4 linked regions of the Homo sapiens genome follow. The protein of the gene in region 1 purifies or fractionates together with the protein of each later gene. This does not show direct contact. Each region holds a gene or a part of one and is shown in the gene's direction. Other genes may lie near its edges.

What was found. Proteins that work in one complex are often made in the same cells at the same time.
Region 2: the proteins of MAFF (region 1) and GAPDHS purify together in Homo sapiens (affinity purification with mass spectrometry; 3 studies listed by BioGRID and IntAct, with this or other methods). This does not show direct contact.
Region 3: the proteins of MAFF (region 1) and GIT1 purify together in Homo sapiens (affinity purification with mass spectrometry; 3 studies listed by BioGRID and IntAct, with this or other methods). This does not show direct contact.
Region 4: the proteins of MAFF (region 1) and CCDC6 purify together in Homo sapiens (affinity purification with mass spectrometry; 3 studies listed by BioGRID and IntAct, with this or other methods). This does not show direct contact.

The regions. Positions count from the first base shown.
Region 1 is NC_000022.11:38,204,060-38,209,099, forward strand, and holds part of MAFF (transcription factor MafF), read left to right. Parts: intron 1-5,040. UniProt on the Homo sapiens protein: Since they lack a putative transactivation domain, the small Mafs behave as transcriptional repressors when they dimerize among themselves.
Region 2 is NC_000019.10:35,536,456-35,539,955, forward strand, and holds part of GAPDHS (glyceraldehyde-3-phosphate dehydrogenase, testis-specific), read left to right. Parts: intron 1-357; coding exon 358-535; intron 536-1,851; coding exon 1,852-1,948; intron 1,949-2,121; coding exon 2,122-2,228; intron 2,229-3,500. UniProt on the Homo sapiens protein: May play an important role in regulating the switch between different pathways for energy production during spermiogenesis and in the spermatozoon. Required for sperm motility and male fertility.
Region 3 is NC_000017.11:29,583,149-29,586,648, reverse strand, and holds part of GIT1 (ARF GTPase-activating protein GIT1), read left to right. Parts: intron 1-3,032; coding exon 3,033-3,166; intron 3,167-3,500. UniProt on the Homo sapiens protein: GTPase-activating protein for ADP ribosylation factor family members, including ARF1.
Region 4 is NC_000010.11:59,791,557-59,795,056, reverse strand, and holds part of CCDC6 (coiled-coil domain-containing protein 6), read left to right. Parts: intron 1-459; coding exon 460-584; intron 585-1,945; coding exon 1,946-2,140; 3' UTR 2,141-3,500.

The DNA.
Region 1 (5,040 bases):
GTTGACTCAGTCCCAGATGGAAAGTTAGCACTGAGAAGTTTAACTTCCCATTGAATCACCCCTGGGCCCTGCATTGCCATTGGGCCCTTGTCCTGGACCAGATGCCAGGGATGAGATGAACAGACCAGATCCAGAGACTGCCCTCTGGGAGCTTATAGCTCAGCAGCGGACACAAACTTGAAAAAAGATCCACAGAAGTAAATGCAAAACACAGCTTAGATGGGTGATGTGAGGGAGAAGTCACTGTGGTTTGAAAGTACATAACAGCGCTCTGACTTAGCCAGGGCAATCAAGGAAGGCTTCCCTGGGGAGGTGACTAGTGTGCTGAGTCTGATAGAGTGGTGGTTGTCTGTGAAGCCCTTGAAGGCAGGAGCTGTGATTCACTTCAGGGTCTCCAGGGCCCAGCACAGAGCCTGGAACATAGTAGGTGCTTCTTGGATGTTTGCTGATTGAATGAATGAGCCCTGGATCCCTGCCCTCTAAGAGCTCCACAACACATGGAGAAAAAGGCCTGGGAACCCCAGAGAAACAGGAAGCCAGGGCAGGGGCTGGGGGAATCTTGAAGCAGTCTCCCAAAAGCGAGCAAATCCTTCAGGACTCAGGCAACTTCCTCCCTCACACACACAGGCATGCACTGCCCGCTTGTCCCTTTGGGAAACATTCAGGGATAGTAGAATTTGCTGTCTGTTCATTCATCTGTTAGCATACGATCCTGGGAGAGAGTGGACAGGAATACGGTTGAGGCCTGAGGACCCTACTGTGTTGGCTTGCGGGGAGGCTGGCATTGCAGGGTTTTGAAATGGGCCAAGCACGGACAGGCTCGTGGGTTTGTGTCAGTAGTGATTCCTCTGACAGCTCTTGGGGGAGGATCAATGATGGGGATTGGAGACGGAGGGCAAGGCAAGAGGCTGGTGAGCAGGCGGTTGTGGTCATGGTCCAGATGAAGGAGGAAGTGGTCTGTGGCTGTGCAGGTGGAGAAGAGGGCTAGTCTGATAGTCTGATAGTTTGTGTCTCATGCCCCCACCTCCAGGAAGCCTTCACCGCTTTCCTTTCCCTACCTCCATTCTGCTGGTGGTCTTGGAGCTCTGGGCCAGAATCTGAAACTCTAAACTCAGAGACAGTCATTGTTGGAAGGTACCTTAGGCTCGGAGGACGTTTGGCATAGTGGGAAAACTGAGGCCCAGAGAGAGGGAGTGCCGTACCTGAGGCCACACAGCGAGTGTGAGAGGGTACCTGAACTGGGGCTGGAACCCCAGGCCGTTGCTTCTCTGTGGTGCTTGGTTCTTCCAGCCTTGCTCCCCTTCCAGCAGGGAGGAGGCTCCAGCAGTGCTGACTGCCAAGAGCTAGGAAAACACATTTTTTCCCTGTCCTCACAGAGCGAGCAGAATGGCTCAGCAGCCAGAAAGGAGCCCATGCCAGCGGGTGGGCCTTCTACAGGATGTCTCTGGAGTGGACTGGTGGGGCCAGGGAGGGGGACGTTGGAGGGTTGTGGCTGCTGACTGGACAAGGCAGTTGTCAGTCCCTCAAGAGTCACCTCTCTCCTTATGCCTCCAGAAGACGTCATGAACCTGCAGACCCTGGAGGTCAGCTCTGCTGGCTTCCAAGGGAAGAAGCCAGGGAGAGGTGGTGGTGGCCGACATAGAAGACAGAGGACCCCTGGGTTCCAGTCCGCCACGGCTACCAAACAGTGGCTTGGTTGCCTCAGGTGCTGAACAGGGGATCGGATCAGCTACTATTTCTCAGGCCCAGGGTCAGCCAGCCTGGCAAAGGCAGAGGACCCAGGCCCCTTGGCAGCCCCTGGCCTGGGGTTGGCAGCGGAAAGCCTGAGGTTACCAGAAAGTTCCCCCTTCTTGTGACTTTCCCCCTGTGATTGCCTGACTGCTGAGCTAGGACATTCCTGGGCAAACGTGGGTGCCTCAGCTGACATCCAGGATGCGGTTGAGGGGGCTGAGGCTCGGACAGGAGGGCATGGAGGAGTGGGGGAAGAGCAGGTTCAAAACCTTCCTAGCACCTGAGGGTATTTACAATCACAGCCAGCTTCCGCTATTATCAAGGATAGGGAATGGCTGATGGTTCCATCTCTCAGGCCTGGTCTGGAGGCAGTGTTGAGGATTCTAGGCTGTGTCCAAGCTCAGGAGAAAACAGTTCTGTGCTGAGAAAGACTCAGGGGCTGTGGCCTGCCTCACTGGGAATTGGTGCTGTGTGTGGTTAGTGATGTCTCTGTTGCTTGTGGATAGTGGGATGATGGTGAGATGAGGTGATCTTTCTTGCCTATGCCTCCTTTTTTTTTTTTTTTTTTTTTGATGGAGTCTCGCTCTGTTGCCCAGGCTGGAGTCCAGTGGCTTGTTCTCAGCTCACTGAAACCTCCACCTCCCGGGTTCATGCAATTCTTCTGCCTCAGCCTCCCAAGTAGCTGGGACTATAGGTGTGCGCCACCACACCTGGCTAATTTTTGCATTTTTTTTTTTCTTTAGTAGAGACAGGATTTCACCATGTTGGCCAGGCCGTTCTTGAACTCCTGGCCTCAGATGATCTGCCCACCTTGGCCTCCCAAAGTGCTGGGATTACAGGCGTGAGCCACCACGCCTGGCCTTGCCTAAGCCTTTATATTTTACACACCAAGATTATTGTGATTATTCCCACTTAGCAAGGAATCCAGGACTCAGGAAAAATGACTTGTGCATGAGGCCAGACTGTGCCTCTGAGGTTCTGTATCAGCCGCAACACCCAAAGGGCAGTTGATTAACTTGCGTGGGGAGAGGCTTCCCTTCTCCCATTGGGTCTTTCTGTGTAGCTCAGGTGGCCAAGCATCACTGCACGTGCCAGCTCCCCAAACGGCTGGTAAGGGGGCCTGGATACTTAACTGTAACTTGCAAATCGTATCCCTAGCGGGCCCAACACAAATCCTGGAGAATCAGAGCTGGGGTGGCCTTGGAAACTGGCAAGTCCAGCTTCATCTTCACAGGGCTAGGGAAACAGGGCCCAGGGAGGTCGCCCTGCCAGGGCCACACAGGGAGGAGGTGTGTGGCTCCATGTGGCCTCAGGCCTGAATTCTATTATTATTATTATTATTATTTTTGAGATGGAGTCTTGCTCTGTCACCCAGGCTGGAGTGCAGTCGCGTAATCTCGGCTCACTGCAACCTCTGCCTCCCAGGTTCTAAGCGATTCTCCTGCCTCAGCCTCCTGAGTAGTTGGGACTACAGGTGTGTGCCACCAGGCCCAGCTAATTTTTTGTATTTTTAGTACAGACAGGGTTTCACTGTGTTAGCCATGATGGTCTCAGTCTCCTGACCTCATGATCCGCCCACCTCGGCCTCCCAAAGTGCTGGGATTACAGGCATGAGCCACCTTGCTTGGCCATCTTTTTTTTTTTTTTTTTTTTTTTTTTTTTTTTTTTGAGACAGAGTCTCGCTCTGTCACCCAGGCTGGAGTGCAGTGGCGCGATCTCAGCTCACTGCAAGCTCCATCTCCGGGTTCACGCCATTCTCCTGCCTCAGCCTCCCCAGTAGCTGGGACTACAGGCGCCCACCACCACACCCGGCTAATTTTTTTTTTAAGAGGCGGGGTCTTGCTTTGTCACCCAGGGAGTGCAGTGGCGGGATCACAGCTCACTGCCGCCTTGAATTCCTGGGCTCAATGGTTCCTCCTGCCTCAGCCTCCTGAGTAGCTGGGGCTATAGGTGTGCACCACTGCACCCGGCTAATCTTTTTATTTTTTGGAGATGGAGTCTAGCCATCTTGCCCAGGTTGGTCTTGAACTCTCAGGCCTGAATTCTACCCCATGCTGGCTGTATGAGCCTGGACTACTCTATTGTCCTCTCTGGGCATTACCTCAGGGTTGGGCGAACCAGGGAGGTGACGGTGTGAAGGGACCAGGTTTCAGTCCTGGGCCTTTGCAGCTATTCATTCACACCTATTGTGTGACTTCAGGCAAGTGCTGCCCCTCTCTGGGTCTCTACCTCCCCTTGGGTAAAGGGAGGAGGCAGGACCTGATGGCCTCTAAGGGCCTTTCCTGCAGTTCCCTGTGTGACCCCAGCCAGCTGGGAGATGCTAAATCAGAGCGAGACCCCAGTGCTGGCTACAGGCCTGACCCCTCCTGGACAGACAGCAATTCTAACCTCCCAGCTGCTCACTGACCTCTACAGTGTATACCACTTGATTCCACCAAAACCCTGCGAGGCAGGTATTGTTCCGATCCTTTAGATGGGAAAGTGGAGACCCAGAGAGATGGAGTGGCTCACCCCAGGTCACACAGCCTGAGAAAACAGAGATGCGACTTAAACCCAAGCTTGACTCCCAATCCAGTGCTCCTTTCCCTGTTTCCCACACCCCACCTTTGGGCCCAAAGTCACGTGGATGGGATCCCCTCTGCTCTCTTCCCATTCGCCTAGCATCTGTACTGTCTCTGCCAACAGGCCCAAGGAAGCAGCTGGAGAGGAGGAAGAATTAGAGACAGGGCCAGGAGGTACTGAACTACGTTTCGGCTTGGAACCCGGCTTGGTGACAAGCTGGGTGATGGCGTCAGAGACTCTGACCATCCACCCTTCCCCAGTGCCTGCTCCCTGCCAGGTCTTGAGATGGGTGGCCTCAAGCACCCAGAGCTGACTCAGCCTCTCCCTGTCTGGTGGAGAGACAGCAAGGAAATACAACCCATTACACACAGGGGTGGGGGTCCCTAACAAGTCCTAGGGATCAGGGAGGGCTTCCTGGAGGAGGAGATGTCTGCACCCAGGGCCGAAGGATGAGTAGGAGTCTGCCAAACAAAGTAGAGGGGAGTGAGGGGAGAGAAATATCATGGGGTGGGAGGTGGCTCAGAGGCAAGAAAGCGCGGGTGGGAGGAAGTGAAAGAAATTCTGTGTGGCTGGAGCACAGAGTGGAGGTGGCAGTGGTGGGAAATGGGCGTGGGGCTGGACACACAGGGCCTGGGGTGCTGGGAGGGTGGGTCTGGACTCCATCCTTAGGATAGTAGGGAACCATGGAAGGTTTTTTTTTTGTTTGCTTGTTTGTTTTTGTGTTTGTTTTTGAGATGGAGTATCACT
Region 2 (3,500 bases), on another chromosome or scaffold:
ATCCCAGCTACTCGGGAGGCTGAGGCAGGAGAATCACTTGAACCCAGGAGGCGGAGGTTGCAGTAAGCCAAGATCAGTCCACTGCACTCCAGCCTGGGTGACAGAGCAATACTCTGTCTCGGGAAAAAAAAAACAACGGAAGTACATAACCAGTGAATTAGAATCTCCAGGAAAGAGCCCTTGGGATTGACATTTTAAACAAGTTCATTCTGTAGAGAAAGTGGGTTTGGGAAACACTGGGCTAAATGGTTGGTCACGAGGGGCCAGGAGCCAGCAACAGATTCTGGGCAGCAAAGACAGTTTGTTCTCTTTCACTTTGGTGGTCATGCAACCCATTCCCTCCCTTCCCCCGCATAGTGACCAGAGCACCGCCCCCACCTGAGCCTAAGGCTGAAGTAGAGCCCCAGCCACAACCAGAGCCCACACCAGTCAGGGAGGAAATAAAGCCACCACCGCCACCACTGCCTCCTCACCCCGCTACTCCTCCTCCTAAGATGGTGTCTGTGGCCCGGGAGCTGACTGTGGGCATCAATGGGTGAGTCTACTCCAGCCCCTGATCAGTCTGAAGCCTTAGAGCCCAGCCCCTCCTCTGGCTGCTAACTGGGGGCACCTCCACATTTCCCCCCATCAATGCTTTCGTTCCGACGACCCTGGAGAAATAGCCCGGAGCAAGGCAGACAGGGCCCCATGCTCAGCAGCATGCTGGTGGGGAAGACAGTAATCAAATAAAGAAATTAGATTGTTCAGTAGAGTGTGCTGGGAACAGTGTAGAATCCAGTGGAAAAGTCAGGCTGGAGAGGGCAGCCTTTGCCAGTGATCAGGGAAGGCCTTGGGGAGAAGGTGTCATTGGAGCGGGACCAGAGTGATGAGACACAGCCAGCTCCCAGGGCACCTTGCTGGGGAAGGAGTCTTCCAGGCAGCGGGACAAGCAATGATTCTGGGGCAGAGGCGAGCTCAGTATGTTCAGGGACAGCCAGGAAGTCAGAGTGGCTGGTGTCCACCAAGCAAAGGGAAAAGGAGGGAGGCCAGTGAGAAGCCCGGAGGGGGCTGCTACACCACAGTAAGGAGTGTGGATCTTGTTTTACTGATGGACAGTCGTGGATGTTTTCATGCCAAGAGACGTAATCTGTCTTGAAGTTTTAAGATCCATCCAGGCTCTCACACCTGTAAACCCAGCACTTTGGGAGGCCAAGGTAGGAGAATCCTTTGAGACCAGGAGTTTGAGACCAGCGTGGGCAACATAGCGAGACTCTGTCTCTACAGAAAAAAATTGTTTTAATTGTTTAATGAAAAAATAAAAGATCCATCCAGCTACAAGGTTAAGAATAGGGGTTAGGAGCCAGGCGCAGTGGCTCACGCCTGTAATCCCAGCACTTTGGGAGGCCAAGGCGGGTCTATCAACTTGAGGTCAGGAGTTCGAGACCAGCCTGGCCAACATGGCAAAACCCCGTCTCTATTAAAAATACAAAAATTAGCCAGGTGTGGTGGTACGCGCCTGTAGTCCCAGCTACTTGGGAGGCTGAGGCAGGAGAATCACTTGAACCCAGGAGGCAGAGGTTGCAATGAGCCCAGATAGCGCCACTGCACTCCAGCCTGGGCGAAAGAGCTGGATTCCATCTCAAAATATATATATATATATATGTATATATGGGTTAGGGAACGGATTGGGAGAGGGAGCTGAAAAAGCAGTTAAAGGGGCTGGTGAGGTCATCTTGGCAAGAGATGCCCATGGCCAGCACAGAGGTTGTTGCCTTCTTCCCCTGGATTAAGGATTCCCAACCAGGCTCCTTGAGGGAGCCTCCTCTCCATTACCCCCTTCTCTCCCATCCCTTCCTGTCTGTCCCTGGCCAGATTTGGACGCATCGGTCGCCTGGTCCTGCGCGCCTGCATGGAGAAGGGTGTTAAGGTGGTGGCTGTGAATGATCCATTCATTGACCCGGAATACATGGTCAGTAGCTGGCAGAGGGCAGGAACAGCAGGGTGGGACTGGGGTGGGAAAGGGACTCAGGGAAGCTGTATGGAAGGCTCTCAGCTGTAATGTGAGACCTTCACCAAAGAGGGGACTCTCTAGGGATCCTCACCCTGCCACCCCAAGACTAGGAGCCATTCCATCCCCCACAGGTGTACATGTTTAAGTATGACTCCACCCACGGCCGATACAAGGGAAGTGTGGAATTCAGGAATGGACAACTGGTCGTGGACAACCATGAGATCTCTGTCTACCAGTGGTAAGGAAAGCATCTGTCTGATGCACGGCTGTGACATATTGAGGCAGGGCATGTGGAGGTGGCTAAAATGGGATTCCAGCCTCTCACATGGGGTGCTGAAACCACCCCCAAAATTGCGTGTGCATGCCTCTAGGTACTAATTTGAAGAGGGAAGTCTCAGGTCCTTCACCCCTAAAATGATTAAGAAGCACTAATCTAAAAAGATGCCTCACTGTACTGAAGAATGCTTTTTCTTTATATTTTTTTTAGGGACGGGGTATCACTCTTTTGCCCAGTCTGGAGTGCAGTGGTGTAATCATAGCTCACCGCATCCTTGACCTCCCGGGCTCAAGTGGTCCTCCCACCTCGGCCTCCCAAGTAGTGGGCACCAGCCACCACACCTGGCAAATTTTTTGTAGAGATGAGGTCTTGCCATCTGGCCCAGGCTGGTCTCAAACTCCTGGCCCCAAGCAATCCTCCCACCTTGGCCTCCCAGAGTGCTGGGATTACAGGCAGGAGCCACTGCATTTTGCTTTAACGCACATTTGCATGTTTTCTCGTGGGCATATCAACATGTCCAGAACTCAACTCTTGATTCCCCTTCAACCCACACCTATTCAGCTCCCATTGACCACTGCTGGTCAACTATGCCTGAATTCCAAAGGGAGGAAGGTATAATGAGGCTTGTGCGAACATCCGAACATCCGTTCCCATCATGGCCTGAACCAGTGTTTCAGTTTTACTTTAGAATGCCCTGGGCCGAGAGAAGGGCTACATTCAGTTAGTTGGGGGAGTTTAGAATTTTATTTTTGGCTGACATTCACCTTTCTAATGTAAACTATTAGCGACTCCTGGCTCTGTGGCTGCCTGGGGCTTTTACACATACACACCCACAGGCCCACACACATGCAAATACACACAGGCACACTAGTGAACCCTGTCTGGGCCCAGGCAGGGTCTGCAGCCTCCCCAGCGCCCCTCCCCACAGATCTAATCTCAGCCCTTCTCCTTGTACTTACTGGGGGTAGGGTGAGTGATAAAGGGGCAGGGATGGGTGCAGGAAGTTTGTGGGCAGGGGGCAGAGACTGGAGAGTCAGTGAAAATTGAAGAAAGCTGCTTAACCCAAGTTTGAAATCATGACACTAGAAACAACTCCAGCACCATAGTTATCACGCAGACTTCAACGTGGCCACCACCATTACCGCCACTTGGAGTCATCCCTCTTCCCCACCTAGCTGCCCCCTCCGTCCACGGTCCCGACTCAGGTCTTGCCTTCTCTGGTCACTTGTGCAA
Region 3 (3,500 bases), on another chromosome or scaffold:
GCAAGGCCGGGGACATGTTACGGGACAAGCTACAGGCTGATTTGTCTCTTCATAGTGTAGATTGCAGAGTGGGACAAATGTTGGGCTCCTCTTCCTCCCTTATGGAGGTAGAATTTGTGTGTGTCAATGCCTGCACCTGAGTGTTCATCCTGATGGGCTTTTACATGTGTGTATACCCATGTAACTACTGCTCTGATCATGTTATAGAATAAGGGTATCCAATCTTTTTGCTTCCCTGGGCCACATTGGAAGAAGAATTTTCTTGGGCCACACCTAAAATACGCTAACACTAATGATAGCTGGTGAGCTAAATAAAACAAGCAAAAATAAAAATAAAAAATAAAGTCACAAAAAAGTCTCATAATGTTTTAAGAAAGTTTATGAATTTGTGTTGGGCCACATTCAAAGCTGCCTGGGCCGCATATGGACTGCAGGTTAGACAAGCATGTTATAGAACATTTCCATCACCTTAGGGGGCTTCCAAGTACCCCCTCCCAGTCCGTGCACCCCAGAGGTAACCACCATTCTGACTCTACCCCAAGGACTACTCTCGCCTGCCTTCATGATGTGGGCTTTTCCCTTAGTCTAGTGGAGATCTGGCCCTTAGCTCAGGGGAGGGAGGCCTGAGGCTAGCCTGTATGTGCAAACCTACTGGCCCTGGAGGCCACTGATGGCTTCAGGTGGTGGCAGGAATTCACCGTAGTAGAGGCCTCCATGGGGTTGGCACTGGTTAACGTGATCCCAGGATCACGCCTGCTACCTCTCCACACATACAGACCCATACCCTGCCGGTGGAGCCAGAAGCGCAGGGGGAGGGCTGACGAGTTCCCTTACAGTTCCTGTCCTTTCCGTCCCAGGTTTGGTCCAAGGAGCTTCTTGACGCAAGGATCCCTTCACCTTAAACTACAATCTGGGTAGTCCCAAGGGCACTTGCACAGAGGGAGGAGACAGAATGGTTAGGGTGGGCGTCCCATCTGTGTCATCCAGAAATGAGCTGACACCAATAGCGGCTGCCCAGACCAGGACAGTGTCCTTTGCCTACCATTCTTCTCAGGTCACCTGGAGGAGAAGGAGAACCCCTCCCCCAGGCTGGGGGAAAGTGCCAGGCAAACCCTTGGACCACACTCCTGCATCCTGGTCTTGGTTACTGCCATAGCCAGGGTCACTCACCACATCTGGTCTGCCCATGGCTTAGGGCTCTGGAGCCATTGGCCGTGGATATATAGTCAGCCTTCCATGCCTGGCTTCTCCGGTAGGACCACAGACCTCAGATCAGCCCATTTATGATCCTGCCCTGGGCGGCTCCCCACTTACAGGAAACCCCACCAAGAGGAATTTGGGCTGCATCATTTCCGGCTTCCTGCCTGGGCTGCTGGAGGTGGCTGGCTGGCAGCCCCCTGACCCAGTGGTGTTTGGAGTGGGGAGAGGGAGGTCTCCACACCTGGGGTGCCTCACTATTTGGGTAAAGCCAGCCCAGAAGTGCATGCTAGGGCTCCCCCTCTTGGCGAAGAAGGCTGGTCCCTTCCTCCTGAGCCCTGGAGTCAGCCCCCCAGGAAGGTGTTGGCGGTCACCTTGGGCATCCCTCTGTTGCCCTGATTGGGAGGGGGTCCCTTAAAAAGCCTAAACCCGCTGCACTCCAGCCTGGGCGACAGAGCGGGACTCCGTCTCAAAAAAAAAAAAAAAAAAAAAGCCTAAACCCAAAGACAGGCCTCTCTCCTTTACTTCCTGTTTTCATGCCTCAGTGGGGGTCACTTGCTGTGGGCAGAGCTCAGGCTGGGCCCCTGACTCAGAGTCTCCTCAATTTTCCTGGGAACTTTGGTGGAAGTCCTTAGAGGGGAAAGGCCTGAGAATTGCCTTCTAGTTGGGAGAGATTCTTATCCCCCTAAGCCTGTCCCTCCCCTGATGGGGATACTTCTGAACACCCTGAGCGCTACAGGGCAAGGCAGAGAGCCAGTCCCCCACCCCCACCCCAGGACAGGGTTTCCTGAGACAGGGTGGGGGCCGCTGGGCAGAGCAAAGTGTCCTGGGAGAGAGGCGCCCTGCCCCCACTCTCAGGCGGCACACAATGGCTGCTTTCTCCCCCGTGACCTTTCCGCAGCCTGAGTCGTATGCAGCTGTCTCCCAAGGGGCCTAGGATGGGTGGCATCTCCTCCACCCTTGAGAAGAACCCCGGAACTCCCACCCAGTCCTGGCCCTGCTTCTTCTCCCAAGTTCACTTTTCCCAAAAGAGTGGAGAGCAGGCTATAGAGGCAGAGGGACAGCAGCAAGTGTGGACATGGCATGGTCTCAGGCATGAAAGTGCCACATCCTGGCAATTCTACTCATTAGCCTCGCATCCTTGAATAAGCCCTTTAACCTCTCTGAGCCACTGTTTCTTCATCACAGAGGTAGCATGTCCTACCTTGCCTGACAGTTGCAAGCAGCATCACACATAATGTACCCAGCTGGTACCTAGTGGGTGCCCAGTCAAGCCCAGCTCCTTTGCTCTGTCCATCTTCCTTAAGAGGGCTCCAGCTTACACCCTCAGTGATGATGGCAGGAGGCTCCAGCATGAAAGGACCTCACCTGCTGGCAGGAGGCCAGAGGCAGGACCTGTGGACGGGTGTGATCTGTCAGGCATGTTTCAACAGCATCTGGCATGCAGCAGCATCTGGGTTGCATCCCCTTGGGGATCCCTTCCTCCCTTCGGGACGGGCTGGGGCAGAGACCTCGTTTCCTGGGAAAAGGCTGAGAGACTGGTAGCAGTGGCTGCAGGGCAGGAAACTGTGCCTGCTGAATGGGCCCTGGGGACTGCATATCCCAGAGGGGTAAGGATGTAGGAAAGGGCATGGCTCTGTCAGCCCCCAGCTGTGAGCTCTTGGGGAGATCCCTCACTGGTAACCTGGCCGTAGTGATGGTCCCAGCTCCTAGGCTGTTGGAGACTGAGTGAGTGAATGTGTGGAGAGTACTAGGCTTGGCACGGGCCAGAGCAGGTGCTCAGGAGGTCTGGCCCATCATCTGGCTCCGGCTGACCCTTGCCCTCACCCTGGCAGACCCTGGCTGGGCATCCATCAGCAGGGGTGTGCTGGTGTGTGACGAGTGCTGCAGCGTGCACCGGAGCCTGGGACGCCACATCTCCATTGTCAAGCACCTTCGCCACAGCGCCTGGCCTCCCACGCTGCTGCAGGTACAGGGCTCAGTCGGGTGGTTCTTCCTTCCCCTCAGGCAGAGTGTGCTGAGCATGAGGGCGTTTCCCCCTCACCCACATACACCCCCATCTGGAATCTGCAGCTTCCAAGGGGCAGCACCCCCCTAGGGCAGAGGCTAATCCTGACCCTTTCCTCCCATCTACTCACTTCATGCAGAAGAGTAGCTCACACCCCTGCTCTGCCACTTATCAACGTGGTCGTGTAGCATTGAGCAAGTTGCTTCACCTCTCTGAGCCTTGGCACACTCATGGGATCTGTGTCTTTGGGCAGCTGGACTAGATGGAGGTGTGGTGGTGCGGGCACACAGTAGGC
Region 4 (3,500 bases), on another chromosome or scaffold:
ATTGCTAAGATCAATGTCAGGGAGCTTTTCCCCTATTTTCCTTCTAAGAGTTTTATAGTTTAAGGTCTTATAGTTAAGTCTTTAATCCATTTTGAGTTGACTTTTGTATATAGTGTAAGAGATAAGGTCCAGTGTCACTCCTCTGCATGTGAATATCCAGTTTTCCCAACACCATCTGTTGAAGAGACTGTTCTCTTTCCCCGTTGTGTATTCTTGGTGCCCTTTTTGAAGATCAGTTGACCATATACGTGTGAGTTTATTTCTGGGCTCTCTGTTCTATCCTAGGAATTAACATTTATTTCCCTTGTTATCCACACCATTTAGTGAGCCCATCATTCTTTTCATCTGTTTGTATTTTTGTGGGTGATAGAGAACTACTGCGATTTAAAACCTCCTAGATAGTTGAAGACACCAGATAGTTGAGCTTAAAATGATACTTAATTTGTTGTTATATTTTAGGTCTATCATATGCAAGTCACACGGTTGGTTTCACGCCACCAACTTCACTGACTAGAGCTGGAATGTCTTATTACAATTCCCCGGGTCTTCACGTGCAGCACATGGGAACATCCCATGGTATCACAGTAAGTGTCCGTGGGGTAGGAAGCAGCACTTTACTCCTGAAAGTGGTACCGACTGGTGTTCTGGAGAACAGGATCGGTGCCCTTAGACATTTGCCCTTCTTCCTGCCTCCTCCATCCGTTCACCTTGAAACTGTAGAGACTTAAACAGTTTGATACCAAATTCTGGTATTGAAACTAAAATCCTTCCCAGGAGACAAAACTTTAACTTCACTTCCTATGAAAAATTACCCTTTGTGAAATATAATTTGAACTCTGGCCAGTGCTTTGATTGAACTCTGGCCAGCTCCTTGCATTATTGTTGGTTGCCATAATGTCTAAAGATATTTATTGTCTGCACCTTCACAGTTCACTGACCTTCAGTATTCTTCCTGAAGTTAGCCTTGTTTGTAATGTTACTCAGAATTTTCTCTCCTCGAATTACAAGGAAGCTTAAGTGCATCTGGTTCCAACTCTACCCAAGGGAGTTTTTTCTTTAGAGTCGGCAATATAGTTGACTAATAGAGCCATTAGAAATGTAGCTAGTAGAGTGAGAGTATTATTAAGGGTATTTCCAATAACAGAAATACCAATATTTCAAAGAATAAATTATAATATTTTAAAGAAGAACCCTATTCTAAGAATGCACTTAAGGTATTTCTGAAGCTGTTTGGCCAGTTTGATGGACTTTATGTAAAAGTAGGAACTTTTTTTTTTTTTTTCCTCACTCTGTCATCCAGGCTGGAGTTCAGCAGCATGATGTCTGCTCACTGCAACATCCGCCTCCGGAGCTCAAGGGATTCTCTTGCCTCAGCCTCCCGAGTAGCTGGTATTACAGGCACACGGCACCACACCTGGCTGCTTTTTGTATTTTTAATAGAGACGGGGTTTTGCCCTGTTGGCCAGGCTGGTCTCGAACTCCTGGCCTCAGGTTATCCACCCACCTCTACCTCCTAAAGTGCTAGGATTACAGGTGTGAGCCACTGCACCCGGCCTCAAACATAGAAACATTTCTGTTGAGCTGTATCTTTCAGGATGTGGACAACTTATTGGAGATAAGCAATAGAGGGAATTGGTGACACACACGGAAAGAAAGATTTAAGGGGATATTTTACAGCTCTCGTTGAAGGACCCAAGTCCAGCAGTTTGTTCAACACAAGTTGTGCAGTAATTTTATGTAGCTTTTTCATAGGTGGAAGTGTAAACACTGCCTTATTTAAATTTTATTACTAGTTCAGAAACCAGTAGGGATGAAGAAAGAAATCCCTGGTTTCTTGTCTTTGTTGGTTAGTGTTTGATTAGCCCCAGTGCCAAGTCAGGCTGTGTTAGGTAGAATGAGATCCACCTGTACCTAGACTGACTTGCTGTTCCTGTCCCCTCTGCAGAGGCCTTCACCACGGAGAAGCAACAGTCCTGACAAATTCAAACGGCCCACGCCGCCTCCATCTCCCAACACACAGACCCCAGTCCAGCCACCTCCGCCTCCACCTCCGCCACCCATGCAGCCCACGGTCCCCTCAGCAGCCACCTCGCAGCCTACTCCTTCGCAACATTCGGCGCACCCCTCCTCCCAGCCTTAATGCATGAGCTTAGTCTGAATTTCAAGTTGGGACTCATCCAATGGAGCCGTCTACTCAACGCCAAAGGCTTCCTTCTCTGGCATATTTGGATATGACTTATTTGCACTGAGGTTATCTAGGCTTCACTATCCATTGTGTTGTAAATGTTTGTCAGAAATGCAGCCAGTGTTGTGGGTCTACAACACTAACCAGACGACTTTTTCCATCAGTGTTTTACTTGAATCTTCATGTACGTCCATTCCCTGGCTGGAACCTTCGCTGTTTGGTATTTGGTATTTCAGCAGCAGTGTGCAATTTTTGCTTGGCCCAGAGCTTCATTCTCCTGGCTTTTAGGTTTGTAAAAGAAAAAGGGATATCTTTTTTATATTTTTTTCCATGAATCTGCAGAAAATTACTGAGCTGTTGTTACCCTCCTCTCATTATAATAGTGTTTACCAAACATACCAATAATTCAGCACTACAATTCAGACCTTTGAAAATCTGGCTTTCAGTGTAGAACAGAAAGTTAGATGAATCAGTGCCCAAGACATATTTTCTGTTTAACAGAACTTTCTACAGATACATTTTTTACAGGTTATTTTCATTGTGTTATTGACATCCATGTCTCTCGTAAAACAGATGGCCCAAAGTAATGAATCATGTGGCTGTACCTTCTCCACATAAATGGGATGGATAATTATCGTATATTAAGATGTGATTCTCTTTTTTATCCTTAATGTTAATCTACTTAACCTGGCCCCCTCTAACATGAGTCGATAAATGTTGTCCTACTCACCGGTGGTTTCAATGGCTAATTAGAATGTGTTATTTGATTTCTGCTGCAGAAGGCAGTGTGATTGTAACAAAAACAATGCGGCTTCCCCCTTTCGTACTTCATTTGTGTTCTCTTAAAATAGAGTTTGAACAAATATTTTAAAGGTGCAAAATACCATTAGAAAATACTATTTGAAATGGACATTATCGCATTATCTTGGCATAATGGCCAGAAAATATTGTATTGCTTGGCAGAAAAGAAAATAAGGTCTAAAGGAAAGTAGCACATTAGCATTGATGGCTGTTCATTTCACCCAGTATAAGCAAGTGCAGTGTACAAAGAAGTATATTCTGAATACATTATTTCCATTCATTTAGCACAAATAAATCATTTGGTTTCACTTTGCAGTGGAACACTGAGTCACTCTTTTCTTAACACGTGCAACATCTTAATTTTTGTTTTTCAGCAGTTGCTGTTTTGTACTTTGGTAGTAAAGTGATTTTTACCACCTGTGTTTGCATATTTATATATGCTGTGGATGAAAATAACTTACTAGAGAATGTATATTTTATGACAAGAATGTGTATCTGTTGGATATAATCAGAG